2 separate regions of the Homo sapiens genome follow, and region 1 is linked to region 2. The links come from fine-mapping of genetic effects on gene expression. A gene starts in region 2. The other region holds a variant in brackets. All regions are shown on one strand. Distances are from middle to middle. Region 1 has its middle 64 kb from the start of FEZF1-AS1. Region 2 holds the start of FEZF1-AS1 (FEZF1 antisense RNA 1).

The links. PIP is the estimated chance that this variant, and not a neighbour inherited with it, causes the effect.
Region 1: its variant is the best candidate, but not a certain one, in a credible set for the expression of FEZF1-AS1 in cerebral cortex (GTEx, PIP 0.66).

Annotation. Positions count from the first base shown.
Region 1 is chr7:122,234,710-122,244,007 of GRCh38, forward strand. It overlaps the pseudogene RPL31P37. Among named protein-coding and RNA genes, the nearest start is that of FEZF1-AS1, 64 kb to the right of the region's middle. The variant G/T (reference allele first, on the strand shown) is at 5,117.
Region 2 is chr7:122,299,200-122,308,497 of GRCh38, forward strand. FEZF1-AS1 (FEZF1 antisense RNA 1) reads left to right here and starts at 4,459. Exons shown (of 7, transcript NR_036484.1): 1 at 4,459-5,069; 2 at 5,374-5,544; 3 at 6,089-7,063; 4 at 7,317-7,461; 5 at 8,104-8,289; 6 at 9,288-9,298. It overlaps FEZF1 (FEZ family zinc finger 1), which reads right to left and starts at 5,551. Exons shown (of 4, transcript NM_001024613.4): 1 at 4,438-5,551; 2 at 3,978-4,112; 3 at 3,600-3,732; 4 at 2,104-3,156. The coding sequence starts at 5,238. The coding sequence ends at 2,798.

The sequences.
Region 1 (9,298 bases), 64 kb before region 2:
GATGTGCACATTGATACCAGGTGCAACAAAGAGGTCTGGGCCAAAGGAATAAGGTATGACCCACACGGTATCTGTGTGCGGTTGTCCAGAAAACGTAATGAGGATGAAGATTCACCAAATAAGCTCTATATTTTGGTTACCTACATACCTGTTACCACTTTCAAAAATCTAAAGACAGTCGATGTGGATGAGAACTAATCGCTGATCATCAAATACATCAAATAAAGTTATAAAATTGCAAAAAAAAAAAGAGGAAATGGACAATCACCATTAAAGGGAGAGATGTCAACACAGCTCTCTATTATTGAGAGGCCAATGGATAGAAAAGGTTTGAACAATGAAATAGGCTATACATATACAGAACCCTCCACCTAAAACAGAGAATGCAAATTCTTCTCTAGCACATAGGAAATAAGTAAAAAAAAAAAAAAAAAAAAAAAGGCCACAAGCAAGGTTTTTTACTTTTAGGTCAAAAAACTTTAAAAATTGCTATCAGACTATATTTGCTTATGACAATGCAATTATGTTATAAATTAATAACAAAAAAGTTACATCTGACAAAGGTCTGATATCCAGAATCTACAAAAAACTTAAAAAAATGAAAAAGAAGCAACCGCATTAAAAAATGGGCCAAAGACACGAACAGACACATCTCAAAAGAAGACATACAAGAAGCTAACAAACATGAAAAAAAAGTTCCACATCACTAATCATCAGAGAAATACAAAACAAAACCACAGTGAGACACCACCTCATACCAGTCAGGATGGATATTATTAAAAAGGTCAAAAAACAACACATGTTGGTGAGACTGTAGAGAAAAGGGACTGCTTACACACTGTTGGTGGGAGTGGAAAGTACTTCAGTCAGTGTGGAAAACAGTTTGAAGATTTCTCAAAGAACCTAAAACAGAACCACCATTTAACTCAGAAATCCCATTACTGGGTATATATCCAAAAGAAAATAAATCATTCTACCAAAAGACACATGCACTCACACCTTCATTGCAACATTATTCACAATATCAAAGACATGGAATCAACCTAGGTGCCCACCAACAGTGGATTAGATACAGAAAATGTGGTGCATATATAACAAGAAATACGAAGGAGTCATAAAAAGAATGAAATCATGCCCTTTGCCTCAACATGGATGCAGCTGCAGGCCTGATATGGTTAGGCTTTCTGTCCCCACTCAAATCTCATCTTGAATTGTGATCCCCATAATCCAAGGGAGAGACCAAGTGGAGGTAATTGAATCATGGGGGCAGTTTCCCCATGCTGTTCTCATGATAGTAAGTGAGTTCTCACAAGATCTGATGGTTTTATAAGGGGCTCTTCCCTCTTTGCTCAGCATTTCTCTTTCCTACCACCTTGTAAAAAAGGTGCCTTGGTTCCTCTTCACCTTCCACCATGATTTTAAGTTTCCTGAGGCCTCCTCAGCCATGCAGAACTGTGAGTCAATTAAACTTCTTTCCTTTATAAATTACCCAGTGTCAGGCAGTTCTTTATAGCAATGTGAAAACGAACTAATACAAGCGAATTCAAAAAGGAACAGAAAACCCAGCAAATACTGTATGTTCTCACTTATAAGTAGGAGCTAAACATTGGGTACTCATGGACATAAAAATGGCAACAATAGAAACTGGGGACTACTAGATGGGGGAGGGAGGAAGGGAGGCAAGGGTTGAAAAACTAAATGTTGAGTATTAGAATCAGAACCTGGGTGACAGGATAATTTGTATACCAAATCCCAGCATCATGTAATATACCCATGTACATGTTACTACTGAATCTAAAATAAAAGTTGAGCCAGGCACTTTGACTCACACCTGTAATCCCAGCACTTTGGGAGGGCAAGGCAGGAAGATTGCTTGAACCCAGGAATTGAAGACCAGCCTGGGCAACGTGGTGAAACCCTGTCTCTATTAAATATATACATACATACATACATAAAAACATAAATAAATAAAATAAACTAAAAACTAGAAAAGAAACTTTTAAAAAAGTTGAAAAAGATTATAAAAGTAAATACAATCTCAAATCATTTAAACCACAATTCTAAGTGACTTTTGAGATTGAATATTTTGTTCACTGAATCTACGCATATACATAACTAAACAAACTGAAATTCTATCATTTCAGCATACCTATTTTGATAAATCAAGATTTAACTATATATAAAATATATAGGAAACTACCAAAAGATATTGAAAATAAGAATGTAATTTTTTTTTTTTTTTGAGACAGAGTCTTGCTCTGTCACCCAGGCTGGAGGGCAGTAGCACGATCTCGGCTCACGGCAAGCTCTGCCTCCCAGGTTCACACCATCCTCCTGCCTCAGCCTCCCGAGTAGCTGGGACTGCAGGCGCCCGCCACCACGCCTGGCTAGTTTTTTGTATTTTTAGTAGAGATGGGGTTTCACCATGTAACTAACATTTTTAAGATACAATAGGGTGTCCAAACTTTTGGCTTCCCTGGGCCACATTAGAAGAAGAAGAATTGTCTTGGGCTGTGCATAAAATACACTAACACTAATGACAGCTGATGAGCTAAAAAGCAAATTGCAAAAATAAAAATAAAAATAAAAATCTCATAATATTATAAGAAAGTTTACGAATTTGTGTTGGGCTGCATGCAAAGCCATCCTGGACCATATGTGGCCTGTGGACTGTGGCTTAGTCAAGCTGATATTGGATAAGGAAAGAGCTAACAGAAAGTGTGAATTGCTCATTTTCTTATTTATTTCTGCAGGGAATAGAACCATTTAAATTTGCTAAATTAAAAAATAGAAGATTAACTGTAATATTATATAAACTGCTATAAAGTTAAGTAGAAGTTTTAAAACAGACAAAACATTGTTGAACTTATAAAAAGAAAAACCACACACATAAAAAAAAAAAAAATCCAAGGCTGAGTGCAGTGTCTCATGCCCATAATCCCAGCACTTTGAGAGGCTGAAGCAGGAGGATCACTTGAGCCCAGGAGTTCAAGACCAACCTGGGAAACATAGCAAGACCTTGTTTCTACCAAAAAAAAAAAAAAAAATTAAATAGCTGGGCATGGTGACATACACTTGTAGTCTCAGCCACTTGGGAGGCTGAAGTGGGAGGATCACTTGAGCCTAGAAGTTCAAGGCTGCCATGAGCTATGATCACACCACTGCACTCCAGCCTGGGTGACAGAGCAAGACCCTGTCACCAAGAAATAAAGCCTAATACATTTATTGTATCGACAAATATAAATGGCATATATTCATCTACTAAAAGAAAAACTCTCATATTGGGTACAATTTTTAAATTGTATATTGTGTATATGAGACATCTAAAACAATGTGATTCACAAAAGATTAAAAAACAAGAATATATAAATACAGTCACGCAAAGCTAACTGAAACAAGAGTTAAAATATAATCTTTTTTAATATATAAATATTAATTGGAGACCACATTTGCTGAGTGCTGTGTGCCAGGAATGTGCTTTACATAAATGATACGTTAAATCCTAAAAACAGCCCTCTGAAGCGTATTGGCCACATTTTACAGATGAAGGAACTGAAGCACAGAGAGATTTAAAAACGTATTCAAAGTTGTATAACTGGTCATCAGAGGAGACAGAATTCCAACCCAAATTTTCTAGCTCTAGATCCTGTCTAGCAGCAATATTCTGTCTTTACAGTTAAAAAAATAAAAGAACTATTTAAAATGTATAATTTTAGTTGCACAGAACTTTTTTTAGAAAGGATACACTAGAAATTATCAAAATAGTAGTTACCTTTACAGAGAATGACTAGGAATGAAAAGAGGATTTTAGGGCGGAGGAGCCAAGATGGCCGAATAGTAACAGCTCCCGTCTACAGCTCCCAGCGTGAGCGACGCAGAAGACGGGTGATTTCTGCATTTCCATCTGAGGTACCGGGTTCATCTCACTAGGGAGTGCCAGACAGTGGGCACAGGTCAGTGGGTGCGTGCACCGTGCGCGAGCCGAAGCAGGGCGAGGCATTGACACACTTGGGAAGCACAAGGGGTCAGGGAGTTCCCTTTCTGAGTCAAAGAAAGGGGTGACGGACGGCACCTGGAAAATCGGGTCACTCCCACCTGAATACTGCGCTTTTCCGACGGGCTTAAAAAACGGTGCACCACGAGATTATATCCTGCACCTGGCTCAGAAGGTCCTACGCCCATGGAGTCTCGCTGATTGCTAGCACAGCAGTCTGAGATCAAACTGCAAGGCGGCAGCGAGGCTGGGGGAGGAGCGCCCGCCATTGCCCAGCCTTGATTAGGTAAACAAAGCAGCCAGGAAGCTACAACTGGGTGGAGCCCACCACAGCTCAAGGAGGCCTGCCTGCCTCTGTAGGCTCCACCTCTGGGGGCAGGGCACAGACAAACAAAAAGACAGCAGTAACCTCTGCAGACTTAGGTGTCCCTGTCTGACAGCTTTGAAGAGAGCAGTGGTTCTCCCAGCACGCAGCTGGAGATCTGAGAACCGGCAGACTGCCTCCTCAAGTGGGTCCCTGACCCCTGACCCCCGAGCAGCCTAACTGGGAGGCACCCCCCAGCAAGGGCACACTGACACCTCACATGGCAGGGTATTCCAACAGACCTGCAGCTGAGGGTCCTCTCTGTTAGAAGGAAAACTAACAAACAGAAAGGACATCCACACCAAAAACCCATCTGTACATCACCATCATCAAAGACCAAAAGTAGATAAAACCCCAAAGGTGGGGAAAAAACAGAACAGAAAAACTGGAAACTCTAAAACGCAGAGTGCTTCTCCTCCTCCAAAGGAACGCAGTTCCTCACCAGCAACGGAACAAAGCTGGATGGAGAATGACTTTGACGAGCTGAGAGAAGAAGGCTTCAGACGATCAAATTACTCTGAGCTACGGGAGGACATTCAAACCAAAGGCAAAGAAGTTGAAAACTTTGAAAAAATTTTAGAAGAATGTATAACTAGAATAACCAATACAGAGAAGTGCTTAAAGGAGCTGATGGAGCTGAAAACCAAGGCTCGAGAACTACGTGAAGAATGCAGAAGCCTCAGGAGCCGATGCGATCAACTGGAAGAAAGGGTATCAGCAATGGAAGATGAAAGGAATGAAATGAAGTGAGAAGGGAA[G/T]TTTAGAGAAAAAAGAATAAAAAGAAATGAGCAAAGCCTCCAAGAAATATGGGACTATGTGAAAAGACCAAATCTACGTCTGATTGGTGTCCCTGAAAGTGATGGGGAGAATGGAACCAAGTTGGAAAACACTCTGCAGGATATTATCCAGGAGAACTTCCCCAATCTAGCAAGGCAGGCCAACGTTCAGATTCAGGAAATACAGAGAACGCCACAAAGATACTCCTCAACAAGAGCAACTCCAAGACACATAATTGTCAGATTCACCAAAGTTGAAATGAAGGAAAAAATGTTAAGGGCAGCCAGAGAGAAAGGTTGGGTTACCCTCAAAGGGAAGCCCATCAGACTAACAGCTGGTCTCTCGGCAGAAACCCTACAAGCCAGAAGAGAGTGGGGGCCAATATTCAACATTCTTAAAGAAAAGAATTTTCAACCCAGAATTTCACATCCAGCCAAACTAAGCTTCATAAGTGAAGGAGAAATAAAATCCTTTACAGACAAGCAAATGCTGAGAGATTTTGTCACCACCAGGCCTGCCTTACAAGAGCTCCTGAAGGAAGCACTAAACATGGAAAGGAACAAACAGTACCAGCCGCTGCAAAATCATGCCAAAATGTAAAGACCGTCAACACTAGGAAGAAACTGCATCAACTAACGAGCAAAATCACCAGCTAACATCATAATGACAGGATCAAATTCACACATAACAATATTAACTTTAAATGTCAATGGACTAAATGCTCCAATTAAAAGACACAGACTGGCAAGTTGGATAAAGAGTCAAGACCCATCAGTGTGCTGTATTCAGGAAACCCATCTCACGTGCAGAGACACACATAGGCTCAAAATAAAAGGATGGAGGAAGATCTACCAAGCCAATGGAAAACAAAAAAAGGCAGGGGTTGCAATCCTAGTCTCTGATAAAACAGACTTTAAACCAACAAAGATCAAAAGAGACAAAGAAGGCCATTACATAATGGTAAAGGGATCAATTCAACAAGAAGAGCTAACTATCCTAAATATATATGCACCCAATACAGGAGCACCAAGATTCATAAAGCAAGTCCTGAGTGACCTACAAAGAGACTTAGACTCCCACACATTAATAATGGGAGACTTTAACACCCCACTGTCAACATTAGACAGATCAATGAGACAGAAAGTCAACAAGGATACCCAGGTATTGAACTCAGCTCTGCACCAAGCGGACCTGATAGACATCTACAGAACTCTCCACCCCAAATCAACAGAATATACTTTTTTTTCAGCTCCACACCACCCCTATTCCAAAATTGACCACATACTGGGAAGTAAACCTCTCCTCAGCAAATGTAAAAGAACAGAAATTATAACAAACTATCTCTCAGACCACAGTGCAATCAAACTACAACTCAGGATTAAGAATCTCACTCAGAACCGCTCAACTACATGGAAACTGAACAACCTGCTCCTGAATGACTACTGGGTACATAACGAAATGAAGGCAGAAATAAAGATGTTCTTTGAAACCAACGAGAACAAAGACACAACATACCAGAATCTCTGGGACGCATTCAAAGCAGTGTGTAGAGGGAAATTTATAGCACTAAATGCCCACAAGAGAAAGCAGGAAAGATCCAAAATTGACACCCTGACATCACAATTAAAAGAACTAGAAAAGCAAGAGCAAACACATTCAAAAGCTAGCAGAAGGCAAGAAATAACTAAAATCAGAGCAGAACTGAAGGAAATAGAGACACAAAAAAGCCTTCAAAAAATTAATGAATCCAGGAGCTGGTTTTTTGAAAGGATCAACAAAATTGATAGACCACTAGCAAGACTACTAAAGAAAAAAAGAGAGAAGAAGCAAATAGACACAATAAAAAATGATAAAGGGGATATCACCACCGATCCCACAGAAATACAAACTACCATCAGAGAATACTACAAACACCTCTACGCAAATAAACTAGAAAATCTAGAAGAAATGGATAAATTCCTCGACACATACACTCTCCCAAGACTAAACCAGGAAGAAGTTGAATCTCTGAATAGACCAATAACAGGAGCTGAAATTGTGGCAATAATCAATAGCTTACCAACCAAAAAGAGTCCAGGACCAGATGGATTCACAGCCGAATTCTACCCGAGGTACAAGGAGGAACTGGTACCATTCCTTCTGAAACTATTCCAATCAATAGAAAAAGAGGGAATCCTCCCTAACTCATTTTATGAGGCCAGCATCGTTCTTATACCAAAGCCAGGCAGAGACACAACCAAAAAAGAGAATTTTAGACCAATATCCTTGATGAACATTGATGCAAAAATCCTCAATAAAATACTGGCAAACCAAATCCAGCAGCACATCAAAAAGCTTATCCACCATGATCAAGTGGGCTTCATCCCTGGGATGCAAGGCTGATTCAATATACGCAAATCAATAAATGTAATCCAGCATATAACCAGAGCCAAAGACAAAAACCACATGATTATCTCAATAGATGCAGAAAAAGCCTTTGACAAAATTCAACAACCCTTCATGCTAAAAACTCTCAATAAATTAGGTATTGATGGGATGTACTTCAAAATAATAAGAGCTATCTATGACAAACCCACAGCCAATATCATACTGAATGGGCAAAAACTGGAAGCATTCCCTTTGAAAACTGGCACAAGACAGGGATGCCCTCTCTCACCACTCCTATTCAACATAGTGTTGGAAGTTCTGGCCAGGGCAATTAGGCAGGAGAAGGAAATAAAGGGTATTCAATTAGGAAAAGAGGAAGTCAAATTGTCCCTGTTTGCAGATGACATGATTGTATATCTAGAAAACCCCATTCTCTTAGCCCAAAATCTCCTTAAGCTGATAAGCAACTTCAGCAAAGTCTCAGGATACAAAATCAATGTACAAAAATCACAAGCATTCTTATACAGCAACAACAGACAAACAGAGAGTCAAATCATGAGTGATCTCCCATTCACAATTGCTTCAAAGAGAATAAAATACCTAGGAATCCAACTTACAAGGGATGTGAAGGACCTCTTCAAGGAGAACTACAAACCACTGCTGAAGGAAATAAAAGAGGATACAAACAAATGGAAGAACATTCCATGCTCATGGGTAGGAAGAATCAATATCGTGAAAATGGCCATACTGCCCAAGGTAATTTACAGATTCAATGCCATCCCCATCAAGCTACCAATGACTTTCTTCACAGAATTGGAAAAAACTACTTTAAAGTTCATACGGAACCAAAAAAGAGCCCGCATCGCCAAGTCAATCCTAAGCCAAAAGAACAAAGCTGGAGGCATCACACTACCTGACTTCAAACTATACTACAAGGCTACAGTAACCAAAACAGCATGGTACTGGTACCAAAATAGAGATATAGATCAATGGAACAGAACAGAGCCCTCAGAAATAATGCCGCATATCTACAACTATCTGATCTTTGACAAACCTGAGAAAAACAAGCAATGGGGAAAGGATTCCCTATTTAATAAATGGTGCTGGGAAAACTGGCTAGCCATAGGCAGAAAGCTGAAACTGGATCCCTTCCTTACACCTTATACAAAAATCAATTCAAGATGGATTAAAGACTTAAACGTTAGACCTAAAACCATAAAAACCCTAGAAGAAAACCTAGGCATTACCATTCAGGACATAGGCATGGGCAAGGACTTCATGTCTAAAACACCAAAAGCAATGGCAACAAAAGCCAAAATTGACAAATGGGATCTAATTAAACTAAAGAGCTTCTGCACAGCAAAAGAAACTACCATCAGAGTGAACAGGCAACCTACAAAATGGGAGAAAATTTTCGCAACCTACTCATCTGACAGACGGCTAATATCCAGAATCTACAATGAACTCAAACAAATTTACAAGAAAAAAACAAACAACCCCATCAAAAAGTGGGTGAAGGACATGAACAGACACTTCTCAAAAGAGGACATTTATGCAGCCAAAAAACACATGAAAAAATGCTCATCATCACTGGCCATCAGAGAAATGCAAATCAAAACCACTATGAGATACCATCTCACACCAGTTAGAATGGCAATCATTAAAAAGTCAGGAAACAACAGGTCCTGGAGAGGATGTGGAGAAATAGGAACACTTTTACACTGTTGGTGGGACAGTAAAGTAGTTCAACCATTGTGGAAGTCAGTGTGGCGATTCCTCAGGGATCTAGAACTGGA
Region 2 (9,298 bases):
AAGAGTACCCCCAACCCCAATATGTCAAAGTACACTGGCCTGGGGTATTTAATGGTTGAGTAATCTTCCTCAATAATATTCATTTTGCTTTCCACCAGTAAGATCGTGTCATCTCGAATGTCTAGAAGAATCTACACCCTGGGTTTTGAGAATAAGTTCAAATATGTATTGACAAGTTCAAGAAGCAAAGGCCATTTTCTGCTTTTTCACTGAAATGTATAGGTTGCAAATTATAACGACTCCTGATCTCATTCACATTTACTCAAACCGAATGCTTTAAAAATCCAACTAAGCTACTTTGGAAAGGGTGATTCATAAACTCTGCAGCATCTCTCAAAACTCCTTCGTGACAGGCAGCTGTCATGGAATGTGGCCAGAGCCTGAGACAAGATTATCAAATCAGCTGTGATATTCTGTGAGAGATGGAGCTACTTAGGGCCGCATAGATTCGGAATCCAGCCAACTATGGAATTCCAAGACCCTCGCTCCCTCGCTTTCCGAAGTCAAATCTAACATGGATTTGGCCCCAACAGTGGGCAAGGTCGGGGCATGAGGTCAGGAAAGGAGAAACATCGGTTTTCGATCTAATAATGGCTGGGCTGGAGCTTGTTCCCTGTGTCCAAAGGGCGTGCGTACTAGCACAAGCGTTGAGAAAGGTCTGGACCCGATGTCTGCAGGAAGTGTCAGGACCTCCCTGTTCTGGGGACCTTCCCAGCCCACACCAGGTCCGTGCTCTCTAGATTCCCCCAACCTCGCTCCACAACCCGGAAGGAGCTCAGGCCGGACTTGGCGTGAGGGTCCCTGCGGGGCTGGGTCACCTACCCGTCCGCGATCACCCCACAGGGGCTGTTAGTAATCTCCCTGCTTCCTAGGCCGTTGAGAAGCACTCAGGTCACCCACTCTCGGTGACCAGAGCGGTCAGTCTTTCCCCGCCATGAAATGTGAGTTCGGGTGGCAGCCGCCGCGCCCCTGCAGTGTCCCCTGCACATCTCCGGTCTCGGTCTCGCCTTTCTCAGCTCCGCGCCGCCTTTTCCTGGGCGCCGCAGGACTCATAGAAGTGAGGCGGGGCCACAGATTTAAGTTTATTCCCCGCAACTGTCGGGGCGGTCCCGGAGCTGGTGAGGACGCGCTACGGTGGGTGCAGAAAGGAGATCCCTGGACTCTGTAGAACCTGGGCCCGCGGTGTGGACCGATGGTGGATTCTCCGCGACAACAGCCCTGGAGGGAGAGAGTGGGCCGGGGGAGGGGCCACGGGGCCCCTGAGGCCTGCGGGGCTGGCCGCACTGGCCCCGGGCCTGGCGGGGTGGTGGAGTCCGAAGCGGCGAGGCGAGGACCCCGGGGCCCGCTCCCCCCAGTCGCCCTCCCGGGATGTGGCCCCGCTGCAGTAGCACTACGGTGCTGGGCTGTTTGTCTGGCAGCTTCTACTGAGCAGCTAATAGTATAACAACCCGGCTTTGATAAATCTGAACTAATTACCCCTCTTAATTAAAGTCTTTAGCAGTTGTTTCATTGTTTTGGCAAGAAAACAGGAGAGACGTGCAGTTAGAAACACCAGAGCCCGAGCTCACAGCGGAGCCGCTGATTAACACTTGAAGCATTTCAAGGACCTGGCACCCGCCACAGTTTGGTTTTCATCCATGTTTCCTCCTTGAATGGAAGTATATTCGTCTATAAACATACATACACATGTAAAAACACGGAGGCTCCGTTTGCCAGCTGTGTACAAGTCAGTATGTGCCGTCAGGATGCAAACAATAGATACCTGTCTATCTATGATTGTAATGCGTTTGAGGAGATGTACATTGCATACAGCTACTGGATACGTTGTTCCCATTTAACTGTGCACTACGAACGTATCAGGTGGTCCAAGCCAAATTTATGTTTCTATTAGAAAACTCCATGTCTTCTGCTTCTGAACTTTACCAGATTTCATAACTTTACCCAAAGGTGTAACCATTTAGAAGAGACTATTTGCACTTGATAGATTTTCAGACCAAAACATTAAGTATTACTAATCCAGGGTTTTAGATTTTAAAAAGGCGGAGGGATGAGGGGGTCAGAGTCAGGGATCTTTAGCTGAATAGTATGAACAGAGCCCTAAAGTTTGTTGATTAAATAAGCATGTTCCAAGTATTTATTTCCAACAGTCAATGAATCAATTTTCACGTGCAATAATCAAAACCAAAATTCAAAATCATCCATAATGAACCACCCTTATCTAATGTGTATGGGTGTGTGCTCACGAATGTGGAATGTACCCCTATGGGCGCACACATCTATGCGTGTATATATGACATACACACAGTGTTTTGTTACTTCAGGGAAAGAGGAAATGATCAACATCCAGCAGACATCTTGAGACCGGAGAATCAACACAATGGAAATATATACAATAATAAAATTAAAATGATGCAGCATTCCCGGGTAGAATAATACAGATCTCAATAAATATAGCAGAAATTTGTTTAAACAAAACAAAACAAAATAAACACCATCTCTCCACCCAAGATGAAAAGTCTTTCCAAATTAAAAAAAAAGAAAAAGAAAAACAGAAAACAAGCAAAACCCTCCAAATTTTTCATAATTGTTAGTGCCTATATAGAATATAATACACAAAACCATTTAGCAGGTGCATGCAAGAGGCGAAAGGCCAGGGGATGCAGAGGCTTCTGGTCGGCCCTGAAGTGTGGGGCCCAACATGCCCTGGGGTCTGCAGACGAACTCGGACCAGGAGCTCTAGTCTGCCGCTGCCTCAGCGTGGGGGCACGGCTGAGGCTGGGAGGACCCTTAGCCTCGATCACTGGTGGCCCTGGTGGAGCCCGGGCTGCAGGGGCCCCGGGGTTGGCAGCGGCGGCTGCAGAGGAGGCAGCGTCATCGGCGGCTGCTGCGGTAGCGGGGGCGGCGGTTCAGTGCCTGGTTCGCCAGCTGGCGTGCGGGCCAGCCCCAGGCTGCTGTCGTGCAGCTTGCGGACATGCTTCTTGAGGTCAAAGTTCCTGCAGAAACCCTTGCCGCACGTGGGGCAGGTGAAAGGCTTCTTGTCGTTGTGGGTGTGCATGTGGAAGGTGAGGTTGTAAACCTGGTGGAAAGCCTTGTTGCAGATATTGCACTTGAACTGCTTCTCCCCGCTGTGGGTCAACTTGTGGTTTTTGTAATTCCCTGAAACACACAAATGACAGGAATATGGTTCTGAAAAAAAAAATAGCTTAAAAAGGGAGGAGCAGACACGTGGAAGGTAGCGCCAGGCAAGCAGAAGAGCCGCCACAGGTCCCACAACAAGTGCAGGGCTACTATCTGTGCCTGCACTTGTCTCCCCAAGTTTATTTTCAAGCATCGCATCAACAGTGATGCCGTTTCCTTAAATTTTAATACACATTTATCAGTCCAATTACATACAATGAGAGCATGCAGTTAAAACATATACCCTTGTTTTATGAATCATGCTTTTCTCTAATACTAATCAGACTTCGAGTAGGGAGTTAGAATGGCAACAAAAGTGCCACATAACTACACTTTAAACATCGTCTTCTAAAACATCCCGAAAGTATTAAGTATGGCTTTTCATAAGACTAACCATGAGAGACATTTCCTGGTTTGCATACCTTTTTGATGAAACCCTTTGCCACAGAATTCACACACAAACGGTTTGTAGCCCGCGTGTATTCGGGTATGAGTGTTTAAAGTGGAACTTCTATTAAATGCTTTGCCACACTGGTTACATTTGTGAGGTTTTTCCTAAGCAGGAGAAAGGAAAAGCAGAGACATTTAGATATTTTCTAATTATGTGAAGTTCTGCAAGCTCAAAACACAGTAATGCTTAAACACTTTCAAGCAGAACAAAAGCAAACAATACATGGCATTCACCCTGTTTAGCTAGCACTTTTTAAATGAACGTTATCCTAAAGAGTAAGGTTTTATCGGCTGTTTTTCTGCAAACAGTTCGGAAGCAAACTAGGTGAAATTGAGACAGATGAACACACCTGCGTGTGAATGATCTTGTGCCTGCACAGGGTGCTTGCTTGCCTGAAACCTTTTCCGCACACTTTGCAAACGAAGGGTCTGGCTCCTGTGTGCACTGGCATGTGACGGGTTAAGTTATAGTGCGCATTAAAGACCTTAAAATTAAACACACGTAGAACAGGTTAGCCGCACAAGTAACTTTGAAATCAAACCGGGCAGAGAGAGGGTAGGAGGAAGAGAATCTTAACAAAAAGTGTATGCAAATAATTACCCCCAAAATACTAAAAAGGGAGGAAGGAAAGGAGGAGCGAGGGAGGGAAGGAAGGAAGGAAGGAAGGAAGGAAGGAAGGAAGGAAGGAAGGAAGGAAGGAAGGAAGGAAGGAGGGAGGGAAGGAAGGAGGGAAGGAGGGAGGGAGGGAGGGAAGGAAGGAAGGAAGGAAGGGAGGGAAGGAAAGGATCTCCGTTTTGCATTGTACTTGCCTTTCCACACACTTCGCAAGTGAAAACTTTGGGCTTGGCATTAGGAGAGCCTCGGCTGAAATCCGAGGTTTTGAACGCGATTTTTTCCGACAGAAGCTGGGCGCTTTCTTTCATGTAATGCTGCAGCTGAGCCTGGGACAGGTCTTTGAAAGCTACTCCAGAAGGGTATTTCTCCACCGCCGGGACCACCAGTTTATTCCTTTCGGCTAAATACGTTTTTGGCTGCGGGTGCAAAGGGGAACTGAGGAAGTAGGAGGCCACCGGGTGGATGTTCACGCCGGCTGCCGGGTGGCATGGGCCGTCACCTCGGTTCAGGTAGCACAAGGCGCCCATGGCGTGGAATGAAGAGTGGTTGACCACACGCGGCCTTACCAGCTTGTACTGCTGCAGCGGCAGCGCGTCGCGGGCCAGGTCGCCCTTGAGACTCAGTGCGCAGTTGAGCAGGTCGCTGCAGCTGAATGCGGGAGCCGAGGGCACCGCCGCGGGCGCCGCCGGGGCCTCCAGACTGGCCTTCCGCGGCTCGGAGCCCGTCACTCCTGCCTTGGGGCTCGTGTCGTAGGCCACAGGCACGAAGGGGATCATGCAGGGGATCGACGAGTTGAGATGCAGAGAGTGCTTGGGTTCCCCCTTGGGTAAGGCTCCCTGCAGGAAGTGGGGGACTGGCAGGGCCTTGGGCTCTGGGGTGCGCGCCATGATTCGTTCAATGGAGAAAGCCAAGGGTTTGGACGTGCTCATCATGTTGCCCCGAGCTGGAGCAGTCGCTAACATTTTGGTAGTCGCGTTGTGGCAGCTACTGTCCATGTCTGAGTCGCCAGCGTCCGTCAGCCGGGGCTGGGTTGCGCCGTCCGTTGCCTTGTTCCCTGCTTGTCACAGACCTGCGGAGAGGGGGACGGGCACCATCACCACCAGTAGCCTCCTCCTCCTCCTCCTCCCCAGCATCACCAGCCGAACCTGCCTGCCCAGCCCAATGGACTCCTGCCAGCCCATCGCAGAGTTCTTGGCGCACCAATGACTCGGGGACAATCACTACTTATTTCTATCAATAGAAAGTGTTGTGTCAATAACGCAGCCAAGATCTCGCCAATCGTTAACTTCCAAGAGGAGAAGGTAAACTAGATAATTGCTCAATTCGCTTCCAACAGTCAACAGGAAAACTTTTTTTTTTTTCATCTGCAGTCAGTAACTACTTTTCATTGGTGAGTGAGGTTCCCCGCCCAGAAAAGGCGGGGGCGCTTTCACCCGCTTGGCGCGCCCTCCCCTCTGCGCACACACTCTGCCGCGCACACTTCACTACCCTCCGCACCCCCCCATCCCCACCCCCCTTTTGCTTCCTCTGCCTTTCTAATTCTCAATCTGCTTAACCAGGCTTTAGAGGCCAAGCAAATCTGAGATCAATTTTCTCGTTTAGCTCTAAGTGACATCATCTAAAATCATTGTGCAAGGGCTAAATAAGGAAACGGAGTCTAATTCAGGGGCAAACGCCAGGCTATATTTATCAAACGCCAAGCTCCAGAAAGCCTCGGCTAGGAAGCCTCGGCAGTGAAATCCGAGGTTTCGCTGCTTGGTTCCACTGGGCCTGGGTGGGCCGGGCTGGGCCGGGCTGGGCCGGGTCAGATCTGTGCCACCTCCGCAGACCTATTTCTTCCTCCAGGGCTCGGGGTTGCCCGCTCCCGGAATCCCGGAGTCTCCGCGGCCCGAACCGAGTCTGGACCATTTAGAAGACGCCGGCAGGTAACTGGCCTCCCCAAACGCCCCGAAAATTAAAAGCCTTAGGAGGCTTGTTCTGTGTTTGTGGTTTTGTAAAGGCAATGCCCGCGGCAATAGGCCTGGGAAAGTCGCACTTTCATCCACAAAGTTGAGGAGTTGCAAGGAATAATTGGGTGTCACACCACAAGCAACCTTGACTCGATCGGACCCCACCCAGGATACACACAGACGCGCGCGCGCGCACGCTTCCGAGTTTCCATTGAGAGTCTGGAAAGAGCATTTCTTTCTTAAGTACCTGCGCTCAGCTAGAGCTCTCCCGGAGCATTTTAAATACTGAATGCCGAGCGGAGAAGGGAAACAGAGTGTATTAATCCCCACTCCGGTTGCCGGTGTCTGCAAGCCTCCTCTAAGCAGCGCAGGCGGCAGCCTGGATGTCTGTGCGCATCAAGGAGACTTGCCGGCGCCAGAGTTGTGTCCACAGGTGCACTTGTGCCTCCCAAAGAGCGCGCGTAGAGACCATTTCCCCTGCAACGCCCCCCAGCCGAACACCCGCCGGGTGTGGCACCTCGGCCGAAACTCCTGGGGCGGCGCGGTGGAGCGTGTGGAGGTTTCCGGGAAGACGCCTACGGCTGCGGCTCCGACTGTGCGGGCTCCCGCCGCCCAGGCAAGAGCGTCCAGGAGCGCGCTGGAAGCTGCGGCGCGCACCTTCCCCGGCGCAGTCTCTTGCCAGCCGGCGATCACGCAGAGCTGAACCCCGCAGCTAGGCGCGCAGGAAGGGCTGCACAGAGTTTGAAGACACGGCAGCTGTAAGCTGGCGTGAGGAGGCCAAAGGAGCGCGCAGAGCTGCAAGCAAAGGGCGGTGGGGCCTGGACCCTGAAGTGAGTGGCCGACCGCAGCAGCTCAAGGTGCCATCTGCCTGGTGAGTTAACCCCACGTGGCTGTGAGACAGGTGGTGGCGGGTGTCAGGTATTGGGCCAAGTGTAGTGGGGGCGTCCTTCTGCTAGAGCTCTGAAAAGGGTTGGCCCCGGAAGGCTGGATAACGGCGGACTAGAAACCCTGGCATTATTAAGTCCCTGAGCAATTTCACTCAAAGATGCGAAACTGGACCTTAAACGAAGGAAATTGACGTCAAAGTATTCCCTCCTCTCTACCCCATTCTCAACACATGCCAGGCAAGCTACCCGGGTCCCTCCGCCCCACTCTAACTTTCCGCGAAAATCAGTTCCGCCTCTGCCCCAAGAGCCAAGAGGGGTGGAAAGGAAGAGAGCTTGGGCTGGGAACGCGCCTGATGTCTAACAGAAAGGCAGTGGCAGCTGGGTGAGTGGTGGGAAAGCTCACAGGCTGAAGAAATGGGGGAGGGGGAGTGAGTCTTATTGGAAGTTGAGGACAGCCAAGGGGCAAGATGGGGGGAGAGGTCTGGCTGAATACGACGGGCTTCAGCAGCTAGGCCTGGGAGTGCCTCGTTTCAGGCCTCGAGGTGGCTTCAGGCTGGGACAACTGATGCAGCAGAGAAGGGCAGAGCGCCCGGGGGGAGAAAGCAAAGAGGCGCTACACTCCAAGGCGGCCCTTTGGAACCGTCCTTGGCCCGGGTGCACCTACTTTGGATTCGCCCAGACTGCAAATTTTTCTTTCCTTTTGCTGGGGCCACGGGACAGAGCACCTGGGCAGAGCAAGCGGAGAGGCGCCACATCCCCGAGAGGCGCTTCGTAGTTGTCCTTGGACCGGGCGCAGACACTCAGTATTGGTCAGCGCTGGAAATTTTCTTTCCTTTTGCTGTTGGGGCCGCAGAACCAGTCTCCTCCTTTCCCCTGCTCAGACAAAGGGCACGGGAAGGGCTTTGCTGGGGCAAAGGGGGGTGGGGGGTTCTCTGTCCCACGACAGATGGGTCGCGGTTAAGACTTTAATTGCTGACTTTTGGGCCGGATCAGATTCCTTTTCCTACCTGCCACTTCCCAGCAGCGAAAAATCCCCCTCCTGCTGCACTCCTCCGCCACCGGGCTAGGTTGAAAGGAAAAAGCCAAGAAGCGCGAAGCAGCCCGGCTCTGGAAGGCTTTGGAGAGTCCAGCTGACTTGTACACAATTCGCGGCCTCTGGAGCCTTACCTGCCTTCTTGACTGAATGCCACCAGTTCGTTTTACGCTTGTGGTGTGTCCCTCACTCTCCCCTTCCTCTCCTCCCCCTCCCCTCTCCTTAACTGCAAAAGAGCCTTTCTTTGACCTCTGTAAATTTCTCCTTTGGTGTATACCAAACTAAAAAGGAAAAAATATTGGCTAAGAGGTATGCATGCTTTGTATAGTTTATATTTCAACAGTTTGCTTTTCACTAGTCTTTTCAGGATTTGCCCTTTTGGCAAGTGTTTGAAAATGTCATTTGAGTTAACACAAATATGGCAAAGCATCAATTATGCTCTTCCTTTAAGATGGCCTTGAGTTTACTAAAGACTGAAAAGGTGCTTTACAACTCCAGGCCTTGATATCCAACATTTGTTAATTTTTTCAAAACCTAACCAAAAACACATGTTAATTAGTAATACTATCTCTATTAAATAAGAATTGTCACAAAACACAAAATATATTTAGAAAGGGCTTCTATCTTACCGTCCAATCTGTCTAGTACTTTATTTCCAAATATATTTGAAAATAACAAAAAAGGCAATAAAAACAGAGTATATTCAGCAAATTCAGAAGCTTTCAAAACGTTTCAATGCAAGTATTTTTTAGTTATTAAAACAAATGCAAGGGAGCCTTGTTTGTTTTGTTAATGGCAAAATAGAAACTCTTACAGTTTCTTTGGATTTTCTTTGAGAATCCTATAATCCTATTTTTTTGCTGAGAGCTGATGATTAAGTGTGCCTCCCCTTTCCATCCATGGAAAGGCAGTATTTATAACCTCAAATCCTGATGGAAGGCGAGTTTCAGTGTATGATTTATCCTTTATGAAATATCCTGAGGAAACCACAGCAGTTCATGATATAAAGAGGCCAGATAACAAACTCTGTGTTAAGATCTATTTAAAAAATAAGAAAAAGTCCTGCTTTTCTAAAGTAATTTAAAATTCTCTTTTTCTAAGGAATCTGATTTTGACTTCAATACTTTCTAAGCTGTGTTCTTGCTATTACTAAAAAATATTCATGATTTCCACAGGCTTTTTGTTG